Homo sapiens: one gene and its partners. The protein of the gene in region 1 interacts with the protein of each later gene in a biochemical or structural test. Each region holds a gene or a part of one and is shown in the gene's direction. Other genes may lie near its edges.

What was found.
Region 2: the proteins of ERG (region 1) and PRPF40A form a complex in vitro, tested with the Homo sapiens proteins (one large-scale study listed by BioGRID).
Region 3: the proteins of ERG (region 1) and LRRK2 interact on a protein array, tested with the Homo sapiens proteins (one large-scale study listed by IntAct).
Region 4: the proteins of ERG (region 1) and SF3B1 form a complex in vitro, tested with the Homo sapiens proteins (one large-scale study listed by BioGRID).

The regions. Positions count from the first base shown.
Region 1 is NC_000021.9:38,386,978-38,390,477, reverse strand, and holds part of ERG (transcriptional regulator ERG), read left to right. Parts: intron 1-3,500. UniProt on the Homo sapiens protein: Transcriptional regulator. May participate in transcriptional regulation through the recruitment of SETDB1 histone methyltransferase and subsequent modification of local chromatin structure.
Region 2 is NC_000002.12:152,707,462-152,710,961, reverse strand, and holds part of PRPF40A (pre-mRNA-processing factor 40 homolog A), read left to right. Parts: intron 1-3,500.
Region 3 is NC_000012.12:40,304,997-40,308,496, forward strand, and holds part of LRRK2 (leucine-rich repeat serine/threonine-protein kinase 2), read left to right. Parts: intron 1-788; coding exon 789-970; intron 971-3,470; coding exon 3,471-3,500. UniProt on the Homo sapiens protein: Serine/threonine-protein kinase which phosphorylates a broad range of proteins involved in multiple processes such as neuronal plasticity, innate immunity, autophagy, and vesicle trafficking.
Region 4 is NC_000002.12:197,428,529-197,432,028, reverse strand, and holds part of SF3B1 (splicing factor 3B subunit 1), read left to right. Parts: intron 1-3,500. UniProt on the Homo sapiens protein: Component of the 17S U2 SnRNP complex of the spliceosome, a large ribonucleoprotein complex that removes introns from transcribed pre-mRNAs.

The DNA.
Region 1 (3,500 bases):
TATAACTTGATTACCTCATTTAGGATCTTATCTCCAAAAAAGGTCACATTCTTAGATACTGCGGGTTAAGATTTCAACATAGGGAATTGAGGGAACACAATTCAACCCATTATACAAGCAGATAAAATAACTAGTATTTTTTAAAAGAGAGCCTTGATACAACCACAAGACTTCAAATTCAGGCTCATCTTCGATGGTCTGTTTCTGAACTTCGATGCTAGAAGAAAGTGCAGATTCTTAATTAGCCCATTTGTAACCAGTGCATTGCCAAGGTTTGTCACCTGTCCTAGTGTTTCAGTGCCAACCACATAGTTTTATTTGTTTGTATTCAGATCAGAACCAGCTGTGCTGGCACCAGCTTCAGAAATTCATAGCCTATGCTGCATATTCCCAACTGCAAATTCAAATGCCAAGATGTTACAGGCATATTGCAAGCACAAGATGGAATGTGTATTTCCTAAACGTTGAGGCCAAAATAAGGTTCGAAATGGAATAATTAAGATTTAATCAGTGTACATCCCTGCAAGAGAATCTACACATTGAAAACACGAAATGTTATCATTATTGAACATCTGTATTTTTGAAGTTAAATTTTGGTTAATGTTAATGAATTCAATGAATTTTTTTTACACAGCTGAAAATCTAAAGAAAACTAGTTAGCCTGGGGCCTAGACTAGGTGCTCAATAATTATTTGTTGCATACATGAATGCCAAGGATAATGAGATATAGTCCTTTAGCTCAGGGTGCTTTTGGTCCGTGGAGAGATGGACACAGGTAGTTACAACATTGTCCCAAACACAGAGCCACAGGCCCTTTTTGCTCATGCTGGCTTTCATCTAGTAGCCCAGGCTCCTGAGGCTGTGGTCTCTTCTCAGCCTTCTGCTCAGCTTTTCATTTGCAACTCTGCCATATAACCATTCAAATAAAAATAATGACTATGTTTTGAGATGATTATTATCAGTCATGCTTCAGGAAGACTGATCTGGCAGCAATGTTCAGGATAGATTAGAAAAAAGAAAATGACGGAAGCTGAAACACTCTGGGAATGTTAATACAATCATGTGAAATAACAATCAAACAGCTCCCATCCCGCAGAATGCCCCCCATAGAATGTCTGTGGTCCCTTCTGTGTCTCATAACAGCCCTGGGAGGTTACTATCTCCATCCTACAGAAAAGGAATTAGAAGTCCAGAGAAGTTAAGTAACTTTTCCTGTGTCACACAGCCAATGATAAGGGAGGTCAGGTTAGAAACCTGACTCTGTCTGCAAAGTCTACTTTTGTTTTCTTGCCCTACTCTGCCACTGACTAAGTATGAAGGGAAGAGGAGGTCTTACAAAATGCGGACTGTGAGAATAGAAAGCAAGGATTTCCTTTCAGGGTCATAACTGCTTAGGTGCAGGCGATGAATCTGAGGTCAGGAAGGAAGAGGAGGAAAGAGTCAAGCTGCACCAAAGAAGACCAAACTGGCCTTTGCACTCACACATTGGCCAAATGAAACATATATGTCCATGACCACGTTGTCACAGCCCAAAGGTACTGCTTGGCTTGTTTGTAGAATAGGGCCTGAGTCACTTGCTCCTAAGCAAAGTGCCAGCTTTCACAAGGGAACACTGCATATGCCCTGGGCCCAGCAGCCCGGGGATGCCCTTTGTAGATAGAGGGACCTGAGCTCAGAGCAAGGAGACCGGAAACTCATCACAGGCCTGGGGAAGGAGGACTGTGCTTCATACCATTAAGACTGTTCTTAATGGGCCTGGAGAAAATGGCAACATCCCATCTTTGATTTGCAGGCAAGTGACTTTAAGATAAAGATTTATTTCATTTAGTTTCTGATGAATTTGACTTTCTCTCCATCTATCTTTAGGTTTGTGTCTGTTGTGCTCATGTGAACTTTTCCCCTGAAACCAGAATGTCTTTTATCTTTGTATTAATGACAATGCTTCTTCCTGTTTGATTCTATTTTTCTATTCTCTGATAAATAAATCTTTCATCACTTAAAAATTGCTGTCTTTGCTCTTCATACAATACAAATTCCTTTTCATCATTTTAAGTGGAAAGATTGCATCATATAGTATGAATGCACAGGATGATGTCAGCATCCCAACATCTCTATCCCAAATATTCACTTGATGTGTACTTTGGACATCACTTTTCCTGCTGAGAACAGTGTGTCCCTGCATTCTGATATCATGGATCGGTTATAAGCAACACAGCTCCTTTACATCCCATCAGAGCAGCTGAGAATCTATCTAACATGGTTCCTCTAATGAAAGAGCTTTGGTGGGTTATGTTCAGAGGCTTCCTTGATGCTAACTGGATACTCTTCAATGGTGCACATGAAAATACATCCTGCCTCTTGCAGAACGACAGACCAGGCTAGGGATGTTTTCCCATTTGTTAGGAGGTGGCAGTGTGCAGTCTTCCAGTGGGAGTCCCCCAGGGAGGGGACAACATGGAAAGGACCTGAGGAGGCTACAGAGGTGTGCATAAACCAGGCCTGAAAGCAAGTTTGCGCAGTGATTAAGCATGGCAGCCTAGAGTCTGGATTTCAACCCTTGCCAACGCTAAGCAAAATAAGTCAGTCTACCTCTCTAAGCTCCAATTTCGTCACTTCTCCAATGGACTAATCACATGATTCCTGTGGGGATTAAATAAACCAATACATGTAAAGCGTTTAGAATGGTGCATGGCACACAGTAAGCTTTCAGAGGATATCAGTCAGCCCAAGAATAGCACCGTTTCAAGCTTCTTCATGGTTCAATAGGCCAATTGAACAGTATTTCTCTTTCTTTAGGCATTTCCTGGCTATAGGAGAGGAGTGTTATCTTTCCTTAAACTCTGATTTTCAGCCCAAAGAAATTCTGACAAGACCATTCAAGTACTGAGTTCATCCTTACCATGATCTTGCAAGATAGTACTATTACCATCACCCCCACTTTACAGATGACGATACTGAGGCAGAGAGAGCTGCGAGAGTTGCCAAACGTCCCACAAAGGGCAGAGGCAGGATTCAGCTGAAGCAGTGGCAACTCCAAAGTTGGTGCTCCCTACCACCATGCTTTCCTGCCCCTCCAGTAAGTGGTGCCTGAGCCTCACTGAGCCTCGGGGCAGAGACTTCCATTCAGGACACACCTGCTGGACACACCTGCTGCCTTGCAGAGGGTCCAGGCCATGCACACGGGATCTTCTGCACCACCCCTGGCTTCTAGAGAAAGTGGCCCCAAACCACTGCCACATGGTACTGGTGGGGCCCCTCACGGCTGTATTTACTGCCCTTGTTCATCAGCTGACGGCTGCAGGGCTTTGCACCAGGATGCTGTTTCCACCAGACACAGCTGCTGACTCACTCTGCAGCTCTCTGCTTTGCTCTGTGGTTTGTAAACCGTTTAGTTTTTTTTTCCCCCTTTTTTGCTCAGTCTGTACCCCTTTGCTACCCTGTTTCTCTCCCTTTCTTTTAACAATATTAGGAGATTACTTTCCTCTGTAAAATTAAAGGAG
Region 2 (3,500 bases), on another chromosome or scaffold:
TCAATGTGGTTAGATTTTTGACAAATGTTAATAGTGAGACTACAAATACGTTTATTTTCATTATCTTTAGATAGCAGTTCATTTAAATATGAGCTCATCTATTCACAAACTTAGTGTGGAAAGATCTAAGGAGGACCACATCAGTTGAGAAGAATGACCGGCATCCCCTGCTCCCCTTTTGAAATTCACAAGGCATAATATTTACTAAAGTGATGAGAAGTCTTGCAGAAGCCTTTTACAATTTTTACTTAGTATTTCTGTCTTATTTGACCATCTCCCCCATAAATCTCCCACATAAAGCATTTGTTTTGCTTTGTGTAGCACATTGTATGAAATTAGCATTTTGTGAGAAATGCTGAATTAGGGCCCTTTATTCTTTTAGTTTGCTCTTTAGGAGAAAAAGGCAACATCAAAATAAGTTAGTGTTAACACACATATGCATAAACGAAACAGCTTGTGTAGTGCAATGAATGTATTCATTAGATAGTGGATCAAAAGAGGAAACAAGTCAATAGATTAACCTTTGATTTTTAAATTAGGCTTGTTGAATATCATGATAAGACTAATAGTAGTATTAATAGATAGTAAAGATTTGAGGCTAGGCACGGTGGCTCATGCCTGTAATCTCAGCACTTTGGGAGCCCGAGGTGGATGGATCACTTCAGGTCAGAAGTTTGAGACCAGCCTAACCAACATGGTGAAACCCCATCTCTACTAAAAATACAAAAATTAGCGGGACATGGTGGCGCACACCTGTCATCTCAGCTACTTGGGAGGCTGAGGCAGGAGAATTGCTTGAACCTGGGAGGTGGAGGTCTCAGTGAGCTGAGATCGCGCTATTGCACTCCAGCCTAGGCAACAATAGCAAAACTGTCTCAAAAAAAAAAAAAAAGATTTGGTACATATGCTACACCATAGCAGTGTACTAGGGATTTTGGGGTTTGTTTGTTTGTTTGTTTTGAGACAGAGTGTCTGTCACCCAGGCTGGAGTGCAATGGTGCAATCTCCACTTACTGCAACCTCATCCTCCCAGGTTCTCCAAGTAGCTGGAATCACAGGTGCGTGCCACATGCCTAGGTAATTTTTGTATTTTTAGTAGAGTCAGGGTATCGCCATGTTGGCCAGGCTGGTCTCGAACTCCAAGGCGCAAGTGATTCTCCTGCCTTGGCCTCCTAAAGTGCTGGGATCACAGGCATGAGCCGCCTTGCCCAACCTGTTTTTAACCTAGAGAAATAGGTCCATGTTGTGAAGGTTTATAAGTAGGAATTAATAGATGACATTCCAAGTAGAAATTATCAGTCTCATTCTTATTTTTTTCCTTACCTTTATTTTTCTTTTATTCAGTACACATTTAAGTATCTTGGGTGTGGTACCTAGTGTACAGGTGATGTATGCCCTGCTCTCAAGGAGGTCATTCCTGAGATGCCATTTTGAACTCATTTTTGTCTTCTAACTGCTGATTTGGTTGTTATGGTATTTCCGTACATTTGGAAATCTAGTGGCTATGAATATTTTATACAGGTTGAGTATCTGTAATCTGGAAACCAGAAATGCTCCAAAATCTAAAACTTTGAGTGCCAACATGACACTCGAAATAAATGCTCATTGGAATGTTTCAGATTTTTGAATTAGGGATGCTCAACCAGTAGGTAAAAAGGCAAATATCTGCAAATCTGAAAAAATCCCAGTCTGGTGTCAAGCATTCTGTATAAAGGCCTCTCAACCTGTATTTGCCTTCTTTCGCTGTCTGGTCAAGTACTTGTACATTATGTATCACTTATTTTAAGCAAGTTAGTTGTACTTAGCAGTTATTAGAGATGTGATTGTTGGAAGTGAATGTTCAGTGTTGCAAAGTGAAAATAGCACTCAGGCAAAAGTTTTCTCAGCAAGGCAGTTTACTTCTGTAGAAGGGTGTGTCTTGCAGATGGAGCAATCGTGAGATGGACAAGGGAGGGGAAGAGGTTCTTATTCTTAACACAGCTGGTCCCCACTGTTGTGTCTTTCCCCTACTGGCTAGGGTTGGACCGCACAATCTAAAGTGACCCAGTTGACTAATGTTTGAAATTGAACCCAGCTGTCTAGGCTGGAAGGGAAAGGCTATCCATTATGACACAATGCATGTCTAGGAGAAGGAAGAGTTTATCTGAATAAGGTGGAGGAGAGCTGAGGAAGGTTTTGGTGAGAGCTGTTTTTATAAGTCTTTGCACTAAACTATGAGTACAGGGTATGATACAGCATCCTGTAAGAATGAGCACACCTATAATGGCTGTAAGAGAAGGATTGAGGCTATGATTCCTTTTCATTTACTGAACTACCTCTCTAGCCATGTTGAGAAAGGGTTATCGACTCCAGAATTTTTAGTTAGTTCATTGGATAAAGCGGTAAGTCTTTGTAAGACGCTTATTATGTTCCCAGTGGGGTCAGTGTTGTTTGGGATAAAGGTACAACAGTGAATTTTAATCATAACACAAACATCCCCTATTTTGGCTAATATATCTAGGGCCATTCTGTTTTCTCAGGCCATCTGGCTAGTGGGCCCCAATTGTTCTGTTACCCTTTGACAGCATCCGTGGTGTAATTATAAACCACTGCTGATTATAATAAATGTAATTTATCCAATCTACGTTTTTATTAGTTGTCACTCACAAAAATATTGACTCAAATCCTGCAGCTATTTGATCTCGAGTTTTAAATTTAAGAGCATTCACATCTTGATATCCTGTCTCAGTTGCCAAAGTTTGTTTTAGGTCTTTAACTTCTACAATAGCTACCTTGGTCTTTTCATTAGATGGAGGAGGAGCAATAGTTTTGTTGTGAGAGGTTTTGGAAGAAGGCTTAGGGGAAAGTGTAGGCAGTAGGGGATCAATGCAGCATATTTCAAAGGATCCAATAGGTTCTGTTCCTGAAACCTCAGCCCCCATGCCATAAAACTGGCTTAAAGAAGGGAACCGGCTTATAGAAGGGGAAGAACTTGGAGGGTTTGAGATAATAACCTGTATTGGACAGTACTGGTTTAGCTCACAGCTAGGGGAAGCTGTTTCTTTAGTAAAGTGAATGTATGGCTTTAGGAAATTACAGCTACTGGTTGGGGCAGTTTATCCGTGCTCTTTAGTGGTCTACAGAACGTTTACAACTACTGGTTGGGGCAGTCCATCTGTGCTCTTTATTGGTCTACAGAACATTGGACCAACTGCAGCATAAAAGCTCTGTCTTGGCGGGGTGTGGGGGGCAATACTCCCAGTTGACATTGGGGTCTTTATTGAAACCTTTCCAGACTAAATGATCCCGATTCACTAATATCCAGTCTGAGCAGAGCCAGGAAGGACAGAGGTACTTTTTTGGAGTGGAGAGCTGCTTCGACGTGTCAAGTCTCCACAGGGTATAACAAGGCAAGCATCAAATATAATAGTTTGAGGCGAAATTGACTCGGTTACATTAATAATGAGGTGATCAGCAATAGAGAGGAAAGAAGAAGGAGTAATAGAATAGATGAAAGAGAG
Region 3 (3,500 bases), on another chromosome or scaffold:
ACTGTATTACTTGTTTTTCAGCTTTCCTTGGTACATTCTTAAATTTCTGCATTCCGCCACCATGCTATCACCCTAATGGATCAACCTTTTTTGTTTTGCTCCATTCTCTCTGTTGTAAATCTGAAATTGATAATTTGTTTGTCTCAGAAAATATTATTTTTCAAGTTCTAGCGTATTGCCTACAAAAACCAAAAGAATTAAGTGTCTGACACTGTGAGGTTCAGCAAAACTGTGCATATATTTTGCTACCTGATTTTTTGCCAGCAAATGAGTGTTTTCTATTATAAATATAGTATATATTGCTTAAAAATTTGGAACAGAAAAGAAATTACTCCAATTAGGATGCCACCTAAAGTATAAGCATGTAGCTGTACTTTGAGAACACTAAATTGCATGCAGGTTTGTAGTGACTAGGTCTTCTTGCCTTTACTGAAGGAGCAGAATGAAGTCACAGATAATGGATAACCAAATCCATTTTGTGGTAAGAACTTCCTTACTTTCAATGTCTTGAAGAGATGAAGTATGTTACCAAAGGAGATTGGGTTTTTTAATATTACAGATGAGTGACATAGATTGTTTGGGAGTAAGTTTTTATATGTAAGTTTTTATGTTTTTAAACACATACTGACAACTTATGACAAACCTTTGGAAAGTTTTAAAACTCTGTTGAAAGGTTGTGCAAGCTGCTGATGGAATCTGTGAGCCTTTCTTGTTTCTTATCACGTTTTTTGGCAGAGCACATTTCTTCCTTCCCACCAACAGGTTTTGCCCTTTTTTTTCCCATTAAGATTCCTCCTGAGATTGGCTGTCTTGAAAATCTGACATCTCTGGATGTCAGTTACAACTTGGAACTAAGATCCTTTCCCAATGAAATGGGGAAATTAAGCAAAATATGGGATCTTCCTTTGGATGAACTGCATCTTAACTTTGATTTTAAACATATAGGATGTAAAGCCAAAGACATCATAAGGTTAGATAATTTTTTTCTATTTGGTTTTACTAAATTTATTTCAGATTTTCTACTCTCTGTGACTTTGATGGACATATATTGTTACTATTTAGGGAAAAATAAATAGTAATATTTGGCATTAATATGCTGTGTGTCATTTGCCTTTCATTTAATGAATGTGTTTCTGTGGTGCCACTGTAGAGATTTCTCATTCTTCTTAGCCAGACTAATGTTGAGAGCGGCTTCTCCTCCTTCTGTTTCTTTTCAGTGGAGTAGACTCTAAAAGAAAATAAGTATTGCTATTTGGTCTCTGGTTACCAATTACACAATCTAAAGAAATACAGCACAGTATAATAACTTCTCACACTGTATTTCATATAGCAACTAGTTAACATATGCCTCTTACATCTTAAAGCATTATAGCTACTGACATCATGTGAAATTACTAACTTCTATTTTGCCCATTAGGATGAGTAATCTACTCACCTTGATCAGTTTTGAAAGCACCAAAACTTCTCAAGTATCACTGTTTCTGGTCTTTACACTTTAAGCACTTTAAATATCTTTGGTAATGGATTTTATCCTCCTTTTTGTTCCCTTTCAGCACATCGGTCTTATTACTTTCTCATAAAATCCTTTGCTCCCTTTTCCACAGTTACTGTATTAACGTTGCAGACCTCAGCTCTGTCATCACCTCTCAACTTGACTGTAATATCCACCAAGGCAGAGACCATGGCTGTGTTCACTCACTATTCAAATCTTGGCACCCAACACAGTGCCTGGCATACAATTAATAGTTGTTTAATTACCAGTGATTTATACTTACTCATTCTCTTCTGCCTAAAATCTCTTAAATTTATATTTAACTTCATCTGTTTTTATGAGGAAGGATTTTGTTTTCTGAACTCCTGAGCTTGATTTCATTTTAAAGGAGTTTGTTATCTTTTGTGCTAATTGTGGCTACCCTTCATCCTACCCAATTATTTTTCTCTCTTGAAACTGGAAAAGATGGTCATATAAAAATTGGTTCAGTTCTTACTAAACATTTAGTAGAACTAGCTTTCAGTGTATTATACTGTATTATCTAACTAAATATTTTTAATATTTAATATTTAATTTAATATATAACTAAATATTTTTAAACATGTTTAACATTTTCAGAAAAGACAGAAAGACCTAGAGCAGATTAGAAATTGTAGGCATCATTTGCTTTTTGAAGAAAGACATTTTTTCAAATAGTGGTGCATTCTTAAGAAATAAATCAAGAAAGGTAATGTTGCTTTTTGGTCATATCATCAGGAATGTTGGTCAGATTCTTATTAGTTACAGGAATGAATTGATCACTACTCTGATGTAAAATTCACTTATGATTTAGTCTTTTTCTCTAATTTGAAACTGTGGCAACATTTTAACATATTTCAAAATATATCTTTCTCTATCCATTATATTTTTGATAACACTTTGACTCTACTATTAGTTTAAAGGTGGTTTTTTAGCTACCTAAACACTTCTATTTCATTCAGGTTTTACATTAAGATCATTAGGAATGAAAGCTAACATCTGCTGATAGTATAATAGTTTATATTTATTTATGATGTTATGTGATCTCACTATCCATATATACTATTATATGCATATGTGATATACATGAATATATAGCTATACATCATATATACCATATATGAATATATACACACACATATATAATGTAACTAATATGACCCTATTATCAAGCTTTAACAGTATACATATATCTCTACCTTGTTTCTATGTCATATGGACTTTGTGAAATTTTGAACTTTATAATTTATAGGGTTTTTCTTTTCTTTTCTTTTCTTTTTTTTTTTTTTTTTGAGACTGAGTTTCACTCTTGTCACCCAGGCTGGAGTGCAGTGGCCTGATCTTGGCTCACTGCAACCTCTGCCTCTTGGCTTCAGGCGATTCTCCTGCCTCAACCTCCCAAGTAGCTGGAATTACAGGCACCTGCCACTGTTCCCGGCTACTTTTTGGATTTTTAATAGAGACGGGGTTTCACTATATTGGCCAGGCTGGTCTCAAACTCCTGACCTCATGATCCGCCCACCTCGGCCTCCCAAAATGCAGGGATTACAGGTGCGAGCCACCGCACCTGGCGTATAATTTGTAGGGTTTTTCATACTATTTAAAGACATTAGAATATGTATACATGTATGTATATGTGTGTATATATAGAGGTATATATATATTGCATATCGTATTCTAATTAGTATTGCAAACATATTTTGGCCTTTTGATTATTTCTGGTGATAGTGTAACATGTTTTCTTTGGTGATTTTACCAAACATTATCAACTACCCTAAAATCTCTAGCAAAATATATGCATTAACAGTACTCTGAAAGACATGTACATTATTAGTTATATGAGATATGCACTCTTCTGGATACTATATTTTAGAATAGTGTGACATGTAAAAGAACTCACCTAAATCTCAAGTATACTTTTAAGCAGTTTATTATTTTATTTTTATCTTTCAAATACTAGGTTTCTTCAACAGCGATTAAAAAAGGCTGT
Region 4 (3,500 bases), on another chromosome or scaffold:
TTCAGCCTCCTGAGTAGCTACAACTACAGGCGTGTGCTACCATGCCTGGCTAATTTTTACAATTTTTTTTTAGAGATGGGGTCTCGCTATGTTACCCAGGCTGATCTCGAACTCCTGGGCTCAAGCAGTCCTGCCTTGGCCTCCCACCGTGCTAGGATTACAGGTGTGAGCCACGATGCCTGGCCTTGAAATTTTTTTTAATAGAATTAATCATTTAGGAATCAATTTATCAGTATTGTTTGTAGTGTTCAGTAAAATGATTTATATTATAGTTAGTTGTCCTATTGGAGTTTTGTTTAATGAAAAAGCTGAGGGTTGGGATTCAGAATATACTTCCTGTTTTTCTGTGATGTCTTTTAGAAGCCTTGTATTTTGGAAATAGTTGTTCACCGGTTATATCTGGCTGAAGGAGAGTAGATATCACTTAGGGACCAGACTGAAAGGTGTAGGTGAGACATTAACATCTGAGGGCAGTATCTGTGTAACATGTAATGAGCAGTGATTAGAACACTGAAAATAATTCAGACGAAAAATGAAAAATAAAAATCAAGGAGGAAGAAGTGCTACAAGTTGGGTTTAGCAGGATCTAAGGCTTAGAAAGAAGAAAAGGGCTGGGCATGGTGTCTCACACCTATAATCCCAGCACTTTGGGAGGCTGAGGTGGGCAGATCACCCAAGGTTAGGAGTTCCAGACCAGCCTGGCCAACGTGGTGAAACCCCCTCTCTACTAAAAGTACAAAAAAATTAACCGGGCATGGTGGCGTGAGCCTGTGATCCCAGCTCCTCGGGAGGCTGTTGCAGGAGAATCGCTTGAACCCAGGAGGCGAAGGTTGCAGTGAGCTGAGATCACGCCACGCCACTGCACTCCAGCCTGGGCGACTGAGTGAAACTCTGTCTCAAAAAAAAAAAAAAAAAAAAAAAAAAGAAGAAAAGGCACAGGAGGGGAAATCAGAGGGACAGAATTGGTGGGGAGCAGTTAAATAGTTTTATCAGATGTGACCTTCTGCTATCAGTGATATGAATTGTTTTTCTCAAGAGCTTGATATGTAGGTCTGAGTTTTAAAATACAGGAGGCCAGGGGTTGCTCACGCATGTAATCCCAGCATTTTGGGAAGTCAAGACAGGAGGATTGCTTGAGACTGCAAACATACAGAAAAGTAGAGAGCGGCTGGCGCTATACTCCAGCCTGGGCAACAGAGCAGGACTCTGTCTCAGAAAAACAAAACAACAGGCCGGGCACAGTGTGTGAAGACAGGTTTTAATAACACTAGGGTAGGCTGGGCACGGTGGCTTACGCCTGTAATCCCAGCACTTTGGGAGGCTGATGTGGATGGATCACCAGAGGTCAGGAGTTTGAGACCAGCTTGATCAACATGGTGAAACCCTATCTCTACTAAAAATAAAAAAATTAGCTGGGTTTGGTGGTGCGTGCCTGTAATCCCACCTGCTTGGGAGCCTCAGGCAGGAGAATCTCTTGAACCAGGAGGTGGAGGTTGCAGTGAGCCGAGATCGTGCCACTGCACTTCAGTTTGGGCAACAGAGTGAGACTTTGTCTCAAAACAAAATAACAAAAAAAACTACCGTGAGTAGTAAAATGAACCCCTCATATACTCATCACCTAGCTTCAACAGTTACAAGCTTAGGCCAGCTTTGTTTAATTTGTACACTGGTCACTTCTACTCTTCCCATTATTTTGAAGCAGATCTTAGACATACCACTTTATCCATAAATATTTCAGTATGTATTTCTGTGTAGGGACTTAAAAAGATAATACCATGATTACACCTAAAATTAAAATAATAAAATATCTAGTCACTGTTCTGTTTTACCCATTCTTTTAAACTTTGTTTTTCAGTTTCAGTCAGGCTTCCAAGAAAACTGATAACATTTTGATTGGTTGGTTTCTCTTATATCTTTTTCATTTCACAGTACATTGTGATTTAATGATTTATCTCTTAAATCTTTTTCAGTTCATAGGTTCCTCCTGTCTCTTTCTTTTTCCTTGCACTTCATTTGTTGCAGAACCTTTGTCCTGTGGTTTCGCACAGTCTGGAGGAATTGGGGAAAGTGGCTGTCTAAACTGGTTCCCTCCTTCCCATTACTGCTGCAATCAAGATGTTAGGGGGCCTACAAGCAATGGAAGCACCCAGAAAATTATTGGCTCTAAGTATGAGCATAGTTCTGAAATCATACTTCAGGTTTAGATTGTGCTAGTCATGGGAAGGAAATTTTTTTTTTTTTTTTTGAGACAGAGTCTTGCTCTGTTGTCCAGGCTGGAGTGCAGTCGCACAATGTCGGCTCACTGCAAGCTCCGCCTCCCGGGTTCAAGCGATACTTCTGCCTCAGCCTCCCGAGTAGCTGGGACTACAGACGCGCGCCATCACACCCAGCTAATTTTTGTATTTTTAGTAGAGATGGGGTTTCACCACATTGGCCAGACTGGTCTCGAACTCCTGACCTCAGGTGATCCATCCACATCGGCCTCCCAAAGTGCTGGGATTACAGGCGTGAGCCACCGTGCCGGCCTGCCTTAGTGTTATTAAAACCTGTCTTGACACAAAAACCTCTAAACAAATGTTTACAGTAGCCTTACTTGTAATCACTGCAAACAGCTCGATGTACTTCAGCTAGAGAATGGATAAACACACTGTAGTACAATGGAATACTACCCAGTAATAAAAAGGCAGAAACTATTGATGTGCACAACAGTGTGGAAATTGGAATATTTAAGGGTTTAAATGGGTTAAAGAGTGCCAGCTTTTGGCAGTTTTGTGTGGCCAATAGGAAGTCCTAGTCTCTTCTTGCTCAGTCACTAGCAGACAGTATCCCTTTTTTCTTTGTCTTCACATCTGAATGTATTGAACTATGAGTCCAAACTGGGAAGGGATTAGGCTGGAACAGGATTTGTTCATTTTGGTCATAATTGAAGTTGGAAGAGATTATTAGCATAGACGTTTCTTTGCCTCAAGTCTTCATTGTTTTTGACCTCTGGTTACTCATTTTGGTATGTTCTCTCATTTTTTATTTTCATAGTTGCCAACCCCCGCCTTTTTTTTTTGAGATGGAGTTTCACTGTGTCGTCCGGGCTGGAGTGCAGTGGCGTGATCTTGGCTCACTGCAACCTCTGCCTCCCAGACTCAAGCGATTCTCTTGTTGCCCAGGCCAGAGTGCAGTGCTGTGATCTCGGCTCACTGCAACCTCCACCTCCCAGGTTCAAGCGATTCTCATGCCTCAGCCTTCCAAGTAGCTGGGATTACAGGCGTGCCACCACCATGTCTGGCTAATTTTTGTATTTTTAGTGAAGACAGGGTTTCACCATGTTGGCCAGGCCGGCTTTGAACTCCTGATCTCAAGTGATTCAACTGTCTTGACTTCCCAAAGTGCTGGGATTACAGGCGTGAGCCACCGCGCTCAGCCAGTTGCCAAGCAGTTTTATGCATTGATCATTTGTTGTCAGAAATGATCTATTTGCATATTTTTAGTCAGTTTATATTTAAGAA